Linked DNA regions of Homo sapiens. The protein of the gene in region 1 purifies or fractionates together with the protein of each later gene. This does not show direct contact. Each region holds a gene or a part of one and is shown in the gene's direction. Other genes may lie near its edges.

What was found. The genes of interacting proteins can lie anywhere in the genome.
Region 2: the proteins of RRM1 (region 1) and RAB14 fractionate together in Homo sapiens (co-fractionation; one large-scale study listed by BioGRID). This does not show direct contact.
Region 3: the proteins of RRM1 (region 1) and CPOX fractionate together in Homo sapiens (co-fractionation; one large-scale study listed by BioGRID). This does not show direct contact.
Region 4: the proteins of RRM1 (region 1) and PEX7 purify together in Homo sapiens (co-immunoprecipitation; one large-scale study listed by IntAct). This does not show direct contact.

What each region holds. Positions count from the first base shown.
Region 1 is NC_000011.10:4,096,975-4,102,530, forward strand, and holds part of RRM1 (ribonucleoside-diphosphate reductase large subunit), read left to right. Parts: intron 1-5,018; coding exon 5,019-5,107; intron 5,108-5,556. UniProt on the Homo sapiens protein: Provides the precursors necessary for DNA synthesis. Catalyzes the biosynthesis of deoxyribonucleotides from the corresponding ribonucleotides.
Region 2 is NC_000009.12:121,181,370-121,185,024, reverse strand, and holds part of RAB14 (ras-related protein Rab-14), read left to right. Parts: intron 1-1,626; coding exon 1,627-1,714; intron 1,715-2,064; coding exon 2,065-2,095; intron 2,096-3,451; coding exon 3,452-3,629; 3' UTR 3,630-3,655.
Region 3 is NC_000003.12:98,583,612-98,587,266, reverse strand, and holds part of CPOX (oxygen-dependent coproporphyrinogen-III oxidase, mitochondrial precursor), read left to right. Parts: intron 1-1,048; coding exon of another isoform or gene 1,049-1,049; exon of another isoform or gene 1,050-1,601; intron 1,602-1,607; coding exon 1,608-1,826; intron 1,827-3,655. UniProt on the Homo sapiens protein: Catalyzes the aerobic oxidative decarboxylation of propionate groups of rings A and B of coproporphyrinogen-III to yield the vinyl groups in protoporphyrinogen-IX and participates to the sixth step in the heme biosynthetic pathway.
Region 4 is NC_000006.12:136,839,437-136,843,091, forward strand, and holds part of PEX7 (peroxisomal biogenesis factor 7), read left to right. Parts: intron 1-3,655. UniProt on the Homo sapiens protein: Receptor required for the peroxisomal import of proteins containing a C-terminal PTS2-type peroxisomal targeting signal. Specifically binds to cargo proteins containing a PTS2 peroxisomal targeting signal in the cytosol.

The sequences.
Region 1 (5,556 bases):
TTTAAAAAGTGCTACCTTGGCCTGGCGTGGCAGGGCATGGTGGCTCACGCCTGTAATCCCAGCACTTTGGGAGGCTGAGGTGGGTGGATCATTTGAGGTGTGGAGTTTGAGACCAGCTGGGCCAACATGGTGGAACCCCGTCTCTACTAAAAACACAAAAGTTAGCCGGACGGTAGTGGTTTGCACCTGTAATCCCAGCTACTCAGGAGGCTGAGGCAGGAGAATCGCTTGAGCCTGGGAGGCAGAGGTTGCTGAAATCGTGCCATTGCACTCCAGTCTAGGCGACAGAGTGACACTCTGTCTCAAAAAAAAAAAAAAAAAAAAAAACCACAAAGTGCTAGCTATAACTAGCTCTAAAAAGCAGAGCTTATTTTCTCATTCCTTCATAGAGCACAATTTGATCCAGATGGTTCATGCTGTAGATTCTGCCATTGTAGCATTCAGCAAGACTTAATATACAACATGTACTTAGATTTGTTTGTTTCTTTTTTTTTTTATATTTCTATGTTTCTATATTTTAATGTTTTTTAATATGCATAGGGTTTTTGGTTTTCTGGACTTTTTTTGTACCCCCTTATTTTTGGCATGTCAGTGGAATAGCAGACTAACTCCTACAGTTTTTGTTAATTTTCTTTGAGATGGGGTCTTGCTCTGTCATCCAGGCTGGAGTGCAGTGGTGTGATCTCAGCTCACTGCAGTGTCTGCCTCCTGGGTTCAAGAGATTCTCCTGCCTCAGCCTCCTCAGTAGCTGGGACTACAGATGTGTGCCACCACGCCTGGCTAGTTTTTGTTATTTTTAATAACAAGGGCAACTGGAAGTTGACTTTGAAGTACCTACTGAATATGCTAATGTCTTGCTAAACACTGTGAGGGCAGTAATGGAGAAGGCAGCTCTATCTTCAAAGAACTTAAAATTGTTAGGGATTTAGGAACAATCCATATGAAAATTATTAGATAGAAGAGAATAGTAGATGAGTTTTTTTCATCTGCTATCTTGAGCTATTTTTCCTAATGGGAGAGTATCATTCCTCAAGGAGATTATGGTTAAAAAAATAAACATTGAGAACCATTGCAGTAAATGACAAAGTAGCTAACTGAGTTGTAAACTGTTTTGGAATTTAGTGTAGTATTTTCAAAACTTTGGATTGTAACTCACAGTAAAAAACAAAACATTTTACAGACATGTGTATATATGTGGATACACATAAAATGATACAAAAGTTTACGAAATAATGTCTTTGAAAGCATCCATTTGCACTCTAATCTTTCTTTTATTCCAGATTCTTTCCCTATCCCTGCCTCCCTCCCTCCCTTCCTTCCTCCCTTTCTTCCTCCCTCCCTTCCTTCCCTCCCTCCTTGCTTCCTTCCTTCCTTTCTCCCTCCCTTCTTTCCTGCCCTCCTCCCTCCCTCCCCTCCCTCTCCCCCTCCCTCCGTCCCTTCCTCCTTCCTTCCTTCCTTCCTTCCTATTCCATTCACAGCCTGCTAATATTATTTTACAACTCTGTGGATACCGTGCTGTTCACCGGGATTGCAGTGATGAGTAGGCAGACATGGTTCCAGCTTCCAAAGATCCTACAATCAATTGAGAAAGATAGACAAATAAAGAAGTAATATGATAAAATATGATAAATACTCTGATAGGTAAAGTATAGGCAGTAGAGGCCATTCATTCAGTTATTCATAAAGCATTTATTCAGCACCTCTTTGTGCTAGGAACCGTTGTAGGCATTAGAGATTCTGCAGTGAACAAAGCTAAATTACATTTCTCATTGAGTTGACTTCTTGGTGTGGGTGGGAGTGGTAAGTGTATATAAGAAATAAGAAGTAAACATAATAATCAGTTAATTTCAGATACTGATTAATGAGATGATAGTAAAACAGGATCATGTGATAAAGATGAATGAGAAAATAACCTTGGATTGGGTAGCCAGGAAAGGCTTCTCTGAGAAGCCAACATTTGAGCTGAACCCTAAATAGTATTAAGAGCTAGTAATGTGAGATCTGTGGCCTGAACATTCTCGGCAGAGGGAATTAGAAAGTTTGTATCCTGTGGAAAAGGCACGCATCCTTGGTCTTACAGGATTAGGGAAGTCTTCCTGAAGAGAGAAGAATGAAAGACAGTTTATAGCCAAGAGGAAATCACACTAGTATGCTAGAGGATTTTTTAATTTTATTTTTTATTTTTTGAGACGGAGTCTTGCTCTGTTGCCCAGGCTGGAGTGCAGTGGTGTGATCTTGGCTTACTGCAACCTCTGCTTCCCAGGTTCAGGCAATTCTGCCTCAGCCTCCCGAGTAGCTGGGATTACAGCATACCCAGCTAATTTTTTTTTTTTTTTTTTTGTATTTTTAGTAGAGATGGGGTTTCACCATATTGGCTAGACTGGTCTCGAACTCCTGACCTCAGGTGATCCGCCTGCTTTGGCCTCCCAAAGTGCTAGGAATACAGGCTGAGCCACCATGCCCTGCTGGCTAGAGGATTTTAAAAGAGGAAAAGGTCAGTGTGAGTTAAAAGTGGTTGAGGCAGGTTTTATGGAGGTGTGAGATTTGGAGGGTGAGTAGGAGTTAGATGTATGGAAAGGTGGAAGAGGAACCTTTAGGCAGAGTAAGGTATAAGCAATGATGTGGATATGGGAATGGGAAGCCCTCTTGGGACTTATATTTCACAGGGAACAGTTGAAGAGATCTGGGGCCAAACTAAGAAAGGCTTTGCTTGAGAGAAGAGGATAATGTAGGCAGTGAGAAGCAGGGATTAGTGATGTGATAAAATCAACATCTGGCTTGAAAAACTAACCAAGTGGAATGACAGAATAGAGAACTGTGTGTCATTGGACCTTTAGATCTTTAGTCTGCCTCCTATTTTCAAGTGTGAGTTAAGATAATTACCAATGCACTTTTTTTTTTTTGTCAGTTTCCTGATTGACTTCAGAACTTCTGGCAGTTGTAGAATTTTCTTTTTGCTAAGTTGCTTTCCCCCCCCACTGCATGTATAATTGCAGAACGCTAATGTTGCTTTGCAGTTACCTGCCTGCTTAGTTATCCAATTGCTAGAGCACTGAGGTTTCAGTCCCAGTGCCAGCCAGTTAATTTACCCCATTTCAGAGTTAAATGCTGCAGATGTGAGCCTGATGAGAAAATTATCACAATGGTGATCAGAAAGAGAGGGGCTAACATATCAGTGTAGAAGAAAAAGCAACTTGTTCTAGTGATAATGGGTTAATAGTGATGTCTTATTGTTCATTTATTCTTCATCAAATGTTTGAGAACTTGCCTTGTTCTAGGCACTAAATTTGAGAATACAGATGTGAATCAGAGGGCCAAATAAATGTAAACATATTTAGCATGTTTCTTATTGGTTACTTCAGGTTGAGTATCCCTTATTCAAAATGCTTGGGCCCAGAAGTGTTTCGGATTTTGGATTTGTTTCAGATTTTGGAATATTCGCATTATACTTACTGGTTGGGCATCCCTAATCAGAAAATCCAAAATCTGAAATGGTCCAAGGAACATTTTCTTTGAACATTGTGTTGGCATTGAAAAAGTTTTGGATTTTGGAGTGTTTTGGATTTTGGAATTTTGGATTAAGGATACTCAGCCTATAGTTACAATGGATTGTAGGTGCACAAAAGAGACAAAAACTAAATCAGTGTGAGACACTAACATTTATTGAGTGCCTATTGTGTATCACATACTGTGATTTTTTTTTCCCCCATAGGAGCAGCTTTATTTTATAACGAGGTATAGTTGTAACTATGCCAAAGTTGTTACAACAAAAGCACTTTTTACCTTATCTAATTTTATTGTCACAGTAAACTGATTAGGCAAGTAAAATAGATATAATAATTAACCCCTTTCTACAAATGAAGATCTGTGAAATGACTGATTGTGTTTTGTGGCTTGTCTAAGGTTAAGGCTGTTTGGTGGTTGGATATATTCACTATTCCTGGTAAGAATAAATAAAGGTCGGATGAGCTACTATTTGAGGTTAAACTAAGAGTAGTAAGACTTTTTTGTCTAGAAGGACAAAGATATAATCTAAGTCCAAAATCATGAAAAATATTAGGTAAAATATATAGTATGTCAGATGGGGTAAGTGCAATGGAGAAAAAGCACAGAAGGGGAAGGGGGATAAGAAGAGCAAGGGTCCTATTTGGGGCATTGCAATTTAAAATGGAATCATCAGGGAAAGCCACATTGAGAAGGTGATGACATTGAGCAAAAGACCTAAAGGAGATATATAGCAAGAAGGCCAAGTTGTCAAGGTACAATAGGAAGGAAGGTGGGAGAGTTGGAGGTGAAATTGGGAAGTGGGTGCACAGGACAAGTGGTATAGGATTCTGTGGATTTTTTTTTTTTTTTAGTTGGAGTTTCATTCTTGTTGTCCAGGCTGGAATGCAATGGCGTGATCTCAGCTCACTGCAACCTCCGCCTCCTGGGTTCAAACAATTCTCCTGCCTTAGCCTCCCGAATAGCTGGGATTATAGGCCCCTGCCACCATGCCCAGCTAATTTTTTGTATTTTTAGTAGAGACGGGGTTTCACCATATTGATCAGGCTGATCTCGAACTCCTGACCTCCAGTGATCCACACCCCCCCCCGCTCCCTTGGCCTCCCAAAGTGCTGGGATTACAGGTGTGAGCCACTAGGCCTGGCCTGTGGATTGTTATAACAATTTTGACTTTTATTCTGGAGATCATAAGCCACTATTAGGAGTTTTGAAGGAGGTAATGATATGATTCTGAGTTTAACTTTTAAAGGGTAATTTTGGCTGCCATGTGGGATGGGGGAAAAATTTAGGAAATTATCCGTAAACGTCTGTCTGTATAGAATTCATACTCTTTGAAGGTGACATCAGAGAAGACAATCTCTTCATGAATCTTTTGAGGGGGCCTCAATCTTTTCTGTGAAATAGCACTTCATGTTGGTCAATTTACATGTTAATTACATTTGATTCTTTGACATTGTAGTCTTAATAATTGCTAACATGAATTTAATAATTGCTAACATGATTTGATTCTTTAGATGGCCGCCAAGAACGAGTCATGTTTGACAAAATTACATCTCGAATCCAGAAGCTTTGTTATGGACTCAATATGGATTTTGTTGATCCTGTAAGTAAATATGGTTTTTATCTTGGGTTCCTTCTTTCATGTGTTTCTTTCCATTTGTCTCTTATCCCTGGACCTTCATTCACCTGATATACTTTGGTATTCTGGCTATGCCCTTCGATATAAAATTTGAATTCATTGCTTAAAACATTTTTTTTTCCTTAATTTTGGTTCTGTCCTGTGAGTTCTCACTTTTCAGAGAACTATGAATGTGAGTAAAGAGGAAAATTTGATATTAACATTTAATATCAGATATTTCCTTGAGTAAATTGTTTTATTCATTAGTGGAAAAGCCTAGGCCAGGCGCCGTGGCTCACGCCTGTAATCCCAGCACTTTGGGAGGCTGAGGTGGGCAGATCACCTGAGGTCAGGAGTTCAAGACCAGCCTGGCCAACATGGTGAAACCCCGTCTCTACTAAAAATGCAAAAATTAGCCGGGCCTGGTGGTGGGC
Region 2 (3,655 bases), on another chromosome or scaffold:
TTGTTGTGGGCATGTTTTGTATCTCTGTAATTAGCATGCCACTTTATGTCTTCCCTTTCAGGGAGATAAGAAGCCTTATTTGGAGATTCATAGGGAATCAGGAGCAGGGCAGTATTTCTTGTTTTGAGTACCTATCTTGTAATGGCCCTATGCTAGTCATTGTGGCTTTACCAGACTTGATTTTTTATAAATTGATTTCCTTTTTAAGTATCATTATTTTATTCTTTTAAAATACTAATGGATAGTATATGAAAGTTTCTTCCCCTTCACAGTGGGCACTTTGTCCACACTGTTTAAAGAATGCTCACTTTTGTTGTACTACTTAACTGTCCTTGCATGAGGTTTACATTCAGATAAAAATGATTATTTGGTTTATGGACACACATTTTTGAAAGTGGAAGAGCCAGGAGCTGTAATTTTACATGAAAAAAAGTTAATGGCTGAAGTGCCTTTTAGTTGAAACCATCCATTCCTAAAGTGTTCATATCTAGATTACCATATCTGTTTGGAAGGGGGAAAAAGGGAAGGATTTTACCAGTTGGTGTCAAATAAGCTCATAAATGTACAAAGACAGTTTATCCATAACCCCCCTCCCCACCCCAGGTAAAGGCCAAAGCCCTTTGCTGTTTCCCAAGGGTACATATTTTTTTCTTACAACTTTGCAGAGCTGCCTTTAACTTTGGCCTAACTTCACTTGTATGAATGGTTCCAAGGTGGATATAGGTTGGTGGGTGATATTTTGCCTTGGATTTGAACTTACTGCATACGTGCCCCCAAACCCCTACTCCCAGCTGCCCCTTGTGTATACACATAGACATCTCTTATCAGTTACTGTTAACTATAAACTCAATCCTTTCTAGGGATAGTGTGGGGTAGGATAGTATTTGTCTCAAGATCTCAGTTTGGGTTTCTACCTGAGATCTAATGTCCTCCTACCACTGACTCACTGAGTGACCTTCAGCAAGTCCTTTTGCCTTATTTGAGCTTCAGTTTCCTTACTGATAGCCTAAAGGAGTTGAACCTAGTGGCTTTCAAACTTTTTGAGGATCTCAGAACTGTTTGAAAACCTGATGGAAGCCATGAATCTTCTCCTCTAGGGAATGCCCACAATTACAGTATTTACAGTATTTCAAGGTATTTACAGATCCCCTGGAGCTTGTCCATGAACCCTTAGTAATCTTACTCAGCTATATCGTAATCTTTGGACTAGACCAGGTGTCACCAAAGTATGTATGGCCTGTGGGCCACATTCAGCCCACAGCCTGTTTTTGACTGGCTTGTGAACTAAGGATGATTTTTAAATTTTTAAAGGGTTGTTAAAAACAACAACAAAAAAACCCAGCAACGAACATGTAACAGAGACCATATGAGGCCCACAAACCTGAAGAATATAGTATTTATTCTTTACAGAAAGTTTGTCAACCCCTGACCTAGATCATTGCTAAGGTCCTTTGTAGTAATGACTTCATGAATCTGTAGCCCTGTCTAGTGGATAATTGCTAGTACTTGGTTTTCTTTTTAGGCCCAGTCATTTTTTCTATCAAGATTTTTGGATTTCAGAATTTGCATGGTTGGTTTAAATTACTGCTTTTGTTACAAGGTGTCTTTCTTTTGATCACAAATTAGGTAATAATTCTCATAGGAAATAAAGCAGATTTGGAGGCACAGAGAGATGTTACATATGAAGAAGCCAAACAGTTTGCTGAAGAAAATGGTGAGTTTCTTTAAGACTTAATGGTCACAATTGGGAGAATTTTTAAGGAAAGGTGGGCTTGACAGTTTTGTTGGTTTTTTTTTGCATTTTTTTTTTAAATGCAGACTCAGAAATCTCAAGAATGAGGAAGTAACAATGTGTTTCTATTTCTGTGTGATTTATGTTGGAGCAGTACAGTTATTTAGTGACAAATATAAAGATGCTCTCCACCTCAAACTTACATACTTTTTCATAAAATACTATGGGAGGAGTACTAAAAACTGATGGGAAACTTTTTCAGATGTTACTAAAGAAGTGCACTTGTGAGTTAGTTTGAAGTGTCCTAATTATAGTCTGAATTTTATTTTTAGGCTTATTGTTCCTCGAAGCGAGTGCAAAAACGTAAGTGTGACCAAAATACAGATATTTCAATTATATTCAAGTTTCTCAAAGTAGAACCGTATATATGAAAAGTATATAATGTATATACACATATAAAGTACTATCTATAAATGTGTAATGCTTACTGCAGGAAGAACAGCAAACATCTCTTTGCTTCCTTTTTTACATTTCAAAATAATATGAATTTTTGTTACTTAAAAGATTGTACCTTGATTATGCCTGTTGGTAACCCAGGTTAATAAATGAAACTTTGTTTACATTTCAAAAGTGTTTGACTTTTCCCAAATGACAGTGTTTGACTTTTCACAAGTGAGGTTGAGTTTGGCATCTCAGACAAGCTTGGTCAATCTGTTCTTCCTGTAATACTTCTGATCACATTAAAAAGCATGATTTAAGGGAATAGTGTCTACTCAGAAGCATAGTGAACATTTTCTAATTGTTCTTCCATGTCTGCTATTGAACTGTGGTACACCCATCATTGTTCTTCATTTATTAGGCCAAAAATTTCTTGTGGTGAGGAGAGGCTAACCTGTTTTCGTTTAGTCTCAGCTGTGCTATTAGTCCAAAGAAAACTGAATGGAGGTGTTAACGTGGCTAAGCATGATTATGTCACCATTACCCGATTAAAAACAGCTCAGTTCATGCTTGGCTGAGCAGACCATATTATTCTTGGAATTTTTTTCAGCATGTTCAGAGAGATTTCATTTCTGTTTGGAGTATCCTCTCTGTTATCACAGAAATGACCTATCTGAATTGTCATGGTGTGTATTAACATACAGTATTTTAATGATTGCATATAACACATGTAGTTGTCCAAATAGGGTTTGTAGAAAGGGCTTTCAGTACACGTATGTATGTATGCTTTCCATAGAAAGTAGTTTTCCGGCCGGGTGTGGTGGCTCATACCTGTAATCCCAGCACTTTGGGAAGCCAAGGCAGGCGGATCACGAGGTCAGGAGATCGAGACCACCCTGGCCAACATGGTGAAACCCTGTCTTTACTAAAAATACAAAAATTAGCTGGGCGTGGTGGTGTGCTCCTGTAGTCCCAGCTACTCGGGAGGCTGAAGCAGGAGAATCGCTTGAACTTGGGAGGTGGAGGTTGCAGTGAGCTGAGATCGGGCCACTGCACTCCAGCCTGGTGACAGAGTGAGTCTCTGTCTCAAAAAAAAAAAAAAAAAAAAAAGGAAAATAGTTTTCCATGTTCTCTTAGCTCAGTGTTCTGGTAATCTCTTATTAGATGACAGTGGTTAAGTTGGAGACATCATGGCAGTTAACTAAAGATTAGCAAAAGGTCAGTGTCTTGTCTTTTGTAGAAAACTGTGGTTCTCCAATAAAGTTATCAATTGCCTCTTAGGGGAGAGAATGTAGAAGATGCCTTCCTTGAGGCTGCCAAGAAAATCTATCAGAACATTCAGGATGGAAGCTTGGATCTGAATGCTGCTGAGTCTGGTGTACAACACAAACCTTCAGCCCCGCAGGGAGGCCGGCTAACCAGTGAACCCCAACCCCAGAGAGAAGGCTGTGGCTGCTAGTGACCTCTTTGCTGTGGCCCCTCATT
Region 3 (3,655 bases), on another chromosome or scaffold:
GATATACTTTTTTAGACTATGTTAATAAAATGTGCATATAAAGAAGGCCAACAAGTCACGATTAAGGTGAATTCTACCTATGCGTCAGTTCTAGGGATTTGCATCTGTTGTTTTTTGTTGTTGTTGTTTAAGCAATTGAAGCTGTATTTAAGGTAACCTTTTAAATAGCTTTTAGTTTTTGTTTGAGCATGTTTTTCTATTTAAGGACCCTTATGCAGAGATTATCAAAAGAACTACTTTTAGGATATAAACTATTTTACAAGTTTAACAGTTAGGAAATGGCTTCTTTTTTGTTTGTTTGTTTGTTTGTTTGTTTGTTTTTTGAGATGGAGTCTCACTCTGTCGCCCAGGCTGGAGTGCAGTGGTGCGATCTCGGCTCACTGCAAGCTCTGCCTTCCGGGTTCACGCCATTCTCCTGCCTCAGCCTCCCGAGTAGCTGGGACTACAGGTGCCCACCACCACGCCTGGCTAATTTTTTGTATTTTTAGTGGAGACGGGGTTTCACCGTGTTAGCCAGGATGGTCTCGATCTCCTGACCTCGTGATCCGCCTGCCTCGGCCTCCCAAAGTGCTGGGATTACAGGCGTCAGCCACCGCGTCCGGCCCAGGAAATGGCTTCTTAGGAAACCTGTTCTAGTAGTCATAGAGGGGAAAAGACTCAAGAACAGATTAATAGTTTTATGTGCTGCCTCACAGGGTAAACTTTCATATGTCTGATATGACATATGAAATAATAAAAGATATCATCTGAACCTTTTTTTCCACCAACTTTTCCCTGTCTTTCATGCTATAGAACCATCAAATTTTATTTCTGAAAGAGACCTGAGAGATTGTTTATAGTACCTTCCTTTGGTGAATAAAGAACTCACTCAAGAGAGCTTGGATTTGCACCATGGTTGGTGTCATTGTTAGTGGAAGATTCCTGTCCTCCTGCCTCCTACAAAAGCAGCAGTGCTTCCGAAGGCAGCAGCTTATTCCAAGAAATACACTATCGATATTGGACTGTTTCTCTTTTCACTAAAGTTCTTAGAGTTTCACATCCTTTACAGAGACTTGTGTGAAATTGCCTGTTCGCCTTGAAAATAAGAGGATAAGCAGCCAGGCATGGTGGCTCACGCCTGTAATCCCAGCACTTTGGGAGGCCGAGGCAGGCAGATCACGAGGTCAGGAGATCGAGACCACCCTGGTTAACACAGTGAAACCCCGTCTCTACTATAAATACAAAAAATTAGCCAGGTATGGTGGTGGGCACCTGTAGTCCCAGCTACTTGGGACGCTGAGGCAGGAGAATGGCGTGAACCCGGGAGGCGGAGCTTGCAGTGATTCAAGATCGCACCACTGCACTCCAGCGTGGGGGACAGAGCAAGAGTCCGTCTCAAAAAAAAAAAGAAAAGAAAAGAAAAAGAGGATAAGCATTTTCTACCTTGGTGATATCTGCAAAAAATCTATCTGTCTAAAGTCCTCATTTCATTTTCATAGTTGGACAGCAAGTAAGGACACCATCCTGACATTAGTTGAGGATAGTGCTGTAACCTGAAAGGCTCACATTGATTTTCATGTCTGTTTTTTTCCATTTGATCCCTGGTTTGGCGCCGCTGTGTTTTCCAGGTGTGATGATTACTTCTTTATAGCCCATCGTGGAGAACGGCGGGGCATTGGTGGTATCTTTTTTGATGATCTTGACTCTCCGTCCAAGGAGGAGGTGTTTCGCTTTGTACAGAGCTGTGCCAGGGCTGTAGTTCCTTCTTACATTCCCCTTGTGAAAAAGCACTGTGATGACTCATTCACCCCCCAGGAGAAGCTGTGGCAGCAGCTCAGAAGAGGACGGTAAGTGACTGGAAAACGAATTCTTTCATGGCTAAGTGGGGGAGGTGGAGCAGCTCTTAATAATAGCGGGTGTTGTGTTGTCAGATACTTTGTAATAGTTGTGTTAATTTCTTTTCATAGATGAATATTAAGTGAATTAAAAGACATTGTGTAAAGTAATATTATAATTATAGCAAAGTTTATTTAATTCATCTATACATTAGAGACTCATAGTAGGCATGTAGTAAGTACTTCCTGAATTTAATTCTGCTGATTTCTCTTAGTCTTCTTGTAATACCCTCCAGCCTTATGTCAAGATGTAGACTTCATTTAATGTCTTTGCTGCTTTGTAAATTTGGAATCACACCTTTTTTCATTCATCTTAAAGATTTCACGGAAGTTATTTTAATGGAAATAATTTCAGAAATTTTGCTGGCCTCTACATTAGGCATTTTGTATCTGATGTTTTTCAACAAACCTGTAAGATAGGTGTAATCATCTTTTTTCAGAAAGTTAAGTCTGTTGCCCAAGAGACACAGCTGGTAAATTTAAGATCTCAGATGTGGAACTGGGTCAAAATGACCTCAAAACTTATAGTCTGTGTAGTGCCTAAAGTTAAGCAGCTGAAGCAGGTTTGTGCTTCTTACCATGATACTCACTTTAACCACCCTGTTCTGTGCAGTGAGCCTGGTGAGCTCAGTGGGGTGTCCAGTCTGAGGCTGTCTCCAGCCACGGTGTACTTGTAAATCCACTCCAAGTTATACAGCCTGCTGGCCCCAATCAGTTTCTCATTGCCACCTTAAATGCCTGTATACTACTGAAACATGGCTATAAAATGGATTTTCTCATTGACGTTAATTCTGTGTTAGGCAAAAGAAGCTTTGGGTACTAAAGAGGTAAAGCTTTTGCCTTAAAGAGGTCAACTTAAATAATGTTTCCAGTCTAAAGATAAACATTTGTGTATATCCTTTCTTATGACTGCCTGTGCTATCTGGTTCCCATTTATTAACTTGAAAAACATGAGAGTAAATTTTTAGAAATTTCTTAAAGAATGCATGTATTTTGGAACATGTTTTTTGTTTGCTTCCATAATTTCTTAAATATACCTTTACCACTCTTTCCTCCTTTCACTTGATACTTATTTTGGGGCCCCTGTGATGAGGCACTATCTTGGCTACCCGGTGGCTGTAACATGGACCTGCCAAAAAGAACCTCATAGTTTAGTGGGGAAGACATACCCAAGAGGACAATTTAGAACTCTGTGCAAAGTAAAGTATTCTAGTTTTGCACAAGATTTCGAAGGCAAAACTTGGCAGATTTTGTCAATACTAATTAGGTGAATCCTTTAAAACTTCATAGACAGGAGTAATGGTTTGTTTTGCGGTTTTGTTTTGTTTTTTATACATCGTTTGATGGCAGATCATTCTGAAAGTCGTTGTTGTGTATCATTGCATGTCTGGTGTCATGAGATAGGCAGAACTGTGGGGTAGTAGATTAATTTTCTATGGTATGGTGTGTGACTGTTCTTCAAAGACAGCTTCTTTCTGCCTCCCTTATCTCTGGTCCTTAAGATGGCAATAAACTCTGGGGCCTAAGATAACTCCAGTTCTTCTCTGGGGCTATCAACACTGTCTTTGGTTTCTAATACTGCAGTCATGACCAGTTTTCTGTATCCTTTTCACTTACTGTTACCCACTTTGCCTCGTCTTCACCCTGTCCAAACACCGGTCTCCCTTTCAGCAGTCAGTCTCATTCCCTTTTGACTTTACAGTCTCTTATTTGGCAATCTCATCCAGTTTCTTGCCCACAGTTACTGCTATCCTCCCCCAGACCTTGAACATCAGTCTTAC
Region 4 (3,655 bases), on another chromosome or scaffold:
CTGTGGTTTTGATGAGGTTCAGATTTCATAAAGCAGCACAAAACATTGTGCGGTGGGTTTTTTTCTTTTCCCATTTTCCTGGTTAATTTTCTTCACCACTGCCAAGAGTAATTTAATCAGATAGGCCTCTAGAGGACCCTGCTCTTAAAGCATAAAGTCAGGCACTGCATATCTCTCTTCCTTTTTATATTTAATTTGACCATTTGCCATGCCCACTATTTGAGTGGGTGTGGACGGGGAGGTTGGGAATAAGGAAGAGATGGAAGAGGAGACTAATAGAAGATGTGCTTTTCATTCAGATTTGTTTCTCTTTTCCTTCATTCATTCCAGAAACTTTTATTAACTCTACTGTGTGCAAGATACTGTACCAGGCTAGCTGGGAAGACAAAACACCTTAGGCATGCCCTTACCCTCCTGGGGTCCTTGCACTGTCTGGGGAGGCAGGATTCTGGTTGTCTAATGTCTAATGTGGTAAGCGCTGTGAATGTATGCAGTGTTATGGGAAGGGAGGATTTGTCTGGGGAAGGGGCAGGGAGGGCATCCTTTGGTCTAAAGGGGAAGTTGGAATGAATTATTCAAGTGGAGAGGCCAGGGTAGTAGTGTTAGAGGCAAATGAAAGAGCATGCTTGACCAGAGAGGATAGAGCCTGTGTGCTTAGAGCTGTCAGCGTTTTGGCCATTGTGCCAAGATCAGTGGAAAGACATTGCAGATTTTAAAAATCAATGAAATATTTTATACATTATAAAATACATGTAAGATGTAAAAATGGTATATTGAACACACATATTCACCATCTAGCTTAAGAAATGAAACATTACCTATACCATTAGCGTCCCCTGCTTACCCTTTCTAGTCTTATCGTTCTTCTCTCTGCTTTTTTTTCTTCCTCGCTTCTTCCCAGGAGTAACCACTAGCCTGAATTTTCTATTTATATATTTTTTGCTTTTCTTTCTATTTTTACTACATATGTATGCATCCCTAAGTCATGCATAGTTTTGCATGATTTTGACCTTTGGGTAGTAAGAATCAGCATGGATGAATCTCACATAATGTTGAGCGAAGATGCTAAGTTGGAGCTACATATAGTGTGAAACCACTGAAAGGCTTTGCACAGGGGAGTGACATTTAATTTGTATTTTCTAAAGATTACTTTTTATGCAGTGTGGATAATGGATTGGAGGTAAACAAAAATGGATGGGGAGAGCAGTTAGAAGGATGTTATAATCTAAGTGGTAACTTATGGTTGATGGTTGTAACCTCTTAAGAGAAATCATAGACAAATTCTTAGCCATAGCCCTTTAGGATCTTATCCCTCCCAGCTATTCAACCTTGCTCTTCCCTGAATCTGGCAAGCTTGTTCCCTGTTAAGGTCTTTCCCTGTTCTCTGTAACCTGAGCCTTTCATCTCGGGTCTGCAGAGTTCAGTCTTTAACTGCACTCAAGTCTCTGCACAGAGAGGTCTTTCCTGGCCATTTTGTTGAGAAGTGACCCCCTGCCCTTGTCATTATTTTCTGTTCTCCTTACTCTGCTTTTTCTTTGTAGTTTTTAAAAAAATTGCAACTTGAAATTATACATTTATTTATAGCATGTTTGCTGCTGCTAAAATATAAGATCCATGGGGGCTGGTCTTATCTAAAATTGTAACCTCCTTTCCCCCCGTGCCTAGTACATAGTAGGTGCTCAATAAATATTTGTTGAATAGATGAGTGAATTGATTGAAGTTGGGATAATGGAATTCATTCTTCCCTTTTCAGCTGTTTCTCAAACATCTCTCTGGCTGTGAACTTTTTTCAGAGCTTGAGGTTAATGCCCAAACCCTGTCTTGCTGTCACCTCAAACTCAGTATATATAAAATTACATTATTTTCCTTCCTCCAGTCTTTCACTTTTGTTAATGCTGCCATCACTGACAGTCCTCAGGCACAAAACCTTGGTGTTATCTTGCAGTGTTCACTACCCCCGATCCCTAGGGTGCTGTATATTCCCATTTATGTGTTTGAGGAAGTTTTCTGGTTACTGTTTCACCTCTGCTTTTTGCCTATTGACATTTTAGCCAGCCCTCAGGGCCCTGCCTCAGTCTTTCTCTTCTGAGCACGAAGCTGAATTTCCATCCAAGCACCCCTTTTGTACTTATGTTTATAGTTTGTTTTGTTTTGTTTTTGAGACAAGGTCTTTCTCTGCTACCCAGGCTGGAATGCAGTGGCGTGATCACTGCTCACTGCTGTCTTGACCTTGACCTTGTGGGCTCAAGCCATCCTCCCACCCCAGCCTCCTGGGTAGCTGGGACTACTGTTATAGGTCACCACACCTGGCTAATTTTTAAAATTTTTTATAGAGACGGGGGTCTCGCCATATTTTCCAGGCTGGTCTCGAACTCGTGGCCTCAAGCGGTCCTCCTGCCTCGGCCTCCCAAAGTGCTGGGATTACAGGCATGAGCCACCGTGCCTGGTGTAATTACTCTTTTTTTAAATTAAAAAAAAAAACCCACACAGTCTCCTGATCTGTTAGTTCCTTTCCCATGTCCTAATATTTTAAACATAGTATTGAGTTGCCTTTCTTTTCTTTTTCTTTTTTTTTTTTTTGAGACAGGTTCTCACTCTGTCACCCAGCTTAAAGTGCAGTGGCACAATCTTGGCTCACTACAACCTCCACCTCCTGGGAGCGATTCTCCTGCCTCAGCCTCCTGAGTAGCTGAGACTGCAGGTGCCTGCCATCACACCTGGCTAAATTTTATATGTTTAGTAGAGACGGGGTTTCACCATGTTGGCCAGGCTGGTCTTGAACTCCTGGCCTCAAGTGACCTGCCCGCCTTGGCCTCCCAAAGTGCTGGGATTACAGGCGTGAGCCACCACACTCAGCCTATTTCCTTCTTTATGATCCCATTTTTAACTTCACCACCATGTGTGTCCTATCTTTAGCTCTGTCATAGAGACCTAATGCTTGCTACTTGGTTGTGCAACAGAAGACAGCTGACAGCAACAATGCCATCAGCATGGTTTTCTTACCTTCTATCTTTGATGTTGATTCAGGCTGGATTCTCTTGAGCCGGTGGAGGCTCCTGCAGTTTTAGAAGGTGAGTAGTCATAAGGTGTCACCTGCTGCATCACACTGGAAATGTGTGGAGGCAGTGGAGTCTGAGCTGATGATGAGTATTTACTTAGTAGTTCTCTGTACCTACCTAGCAGTGATTCAGGTTGTAAAGAAAAATTTAATTGGTTAAATTATTTTAACCAATGTTTGAGTGCCTATTTTACTGTGATGAACATAGATGTACAAGATGTTTTGCTCATTAGGAGTCTCCAAAATCTAGCAGGTATGTGAGTTATGTAACATTCTTTTTAGTAAATAAAATATGGTAAATGCTGAGTTAGAAGTAGGTGTGAGCTGCTGTTGAAGGCAGCATATGACTCATTGAAGGACTTATCAGGGGAGGCTTATTTCGTAAGGGATGTAATGGGGCACGTCTTGATGGATAAATGGAAATTCACAAGTGGAGAGGGGCTTTAAGATCTGTGTATAGGTAATTCATGAAAACACAGTGGAATCAATCTAGGCCCAAATGTAGCTCCAGTAAAGGGTGAAACCAGCAGGGGTAGAGCTTTAGTTCCTTGATATCATGGCTTAAGGTAGCCAAGAAGTTCTGATTCAACAGTGCCC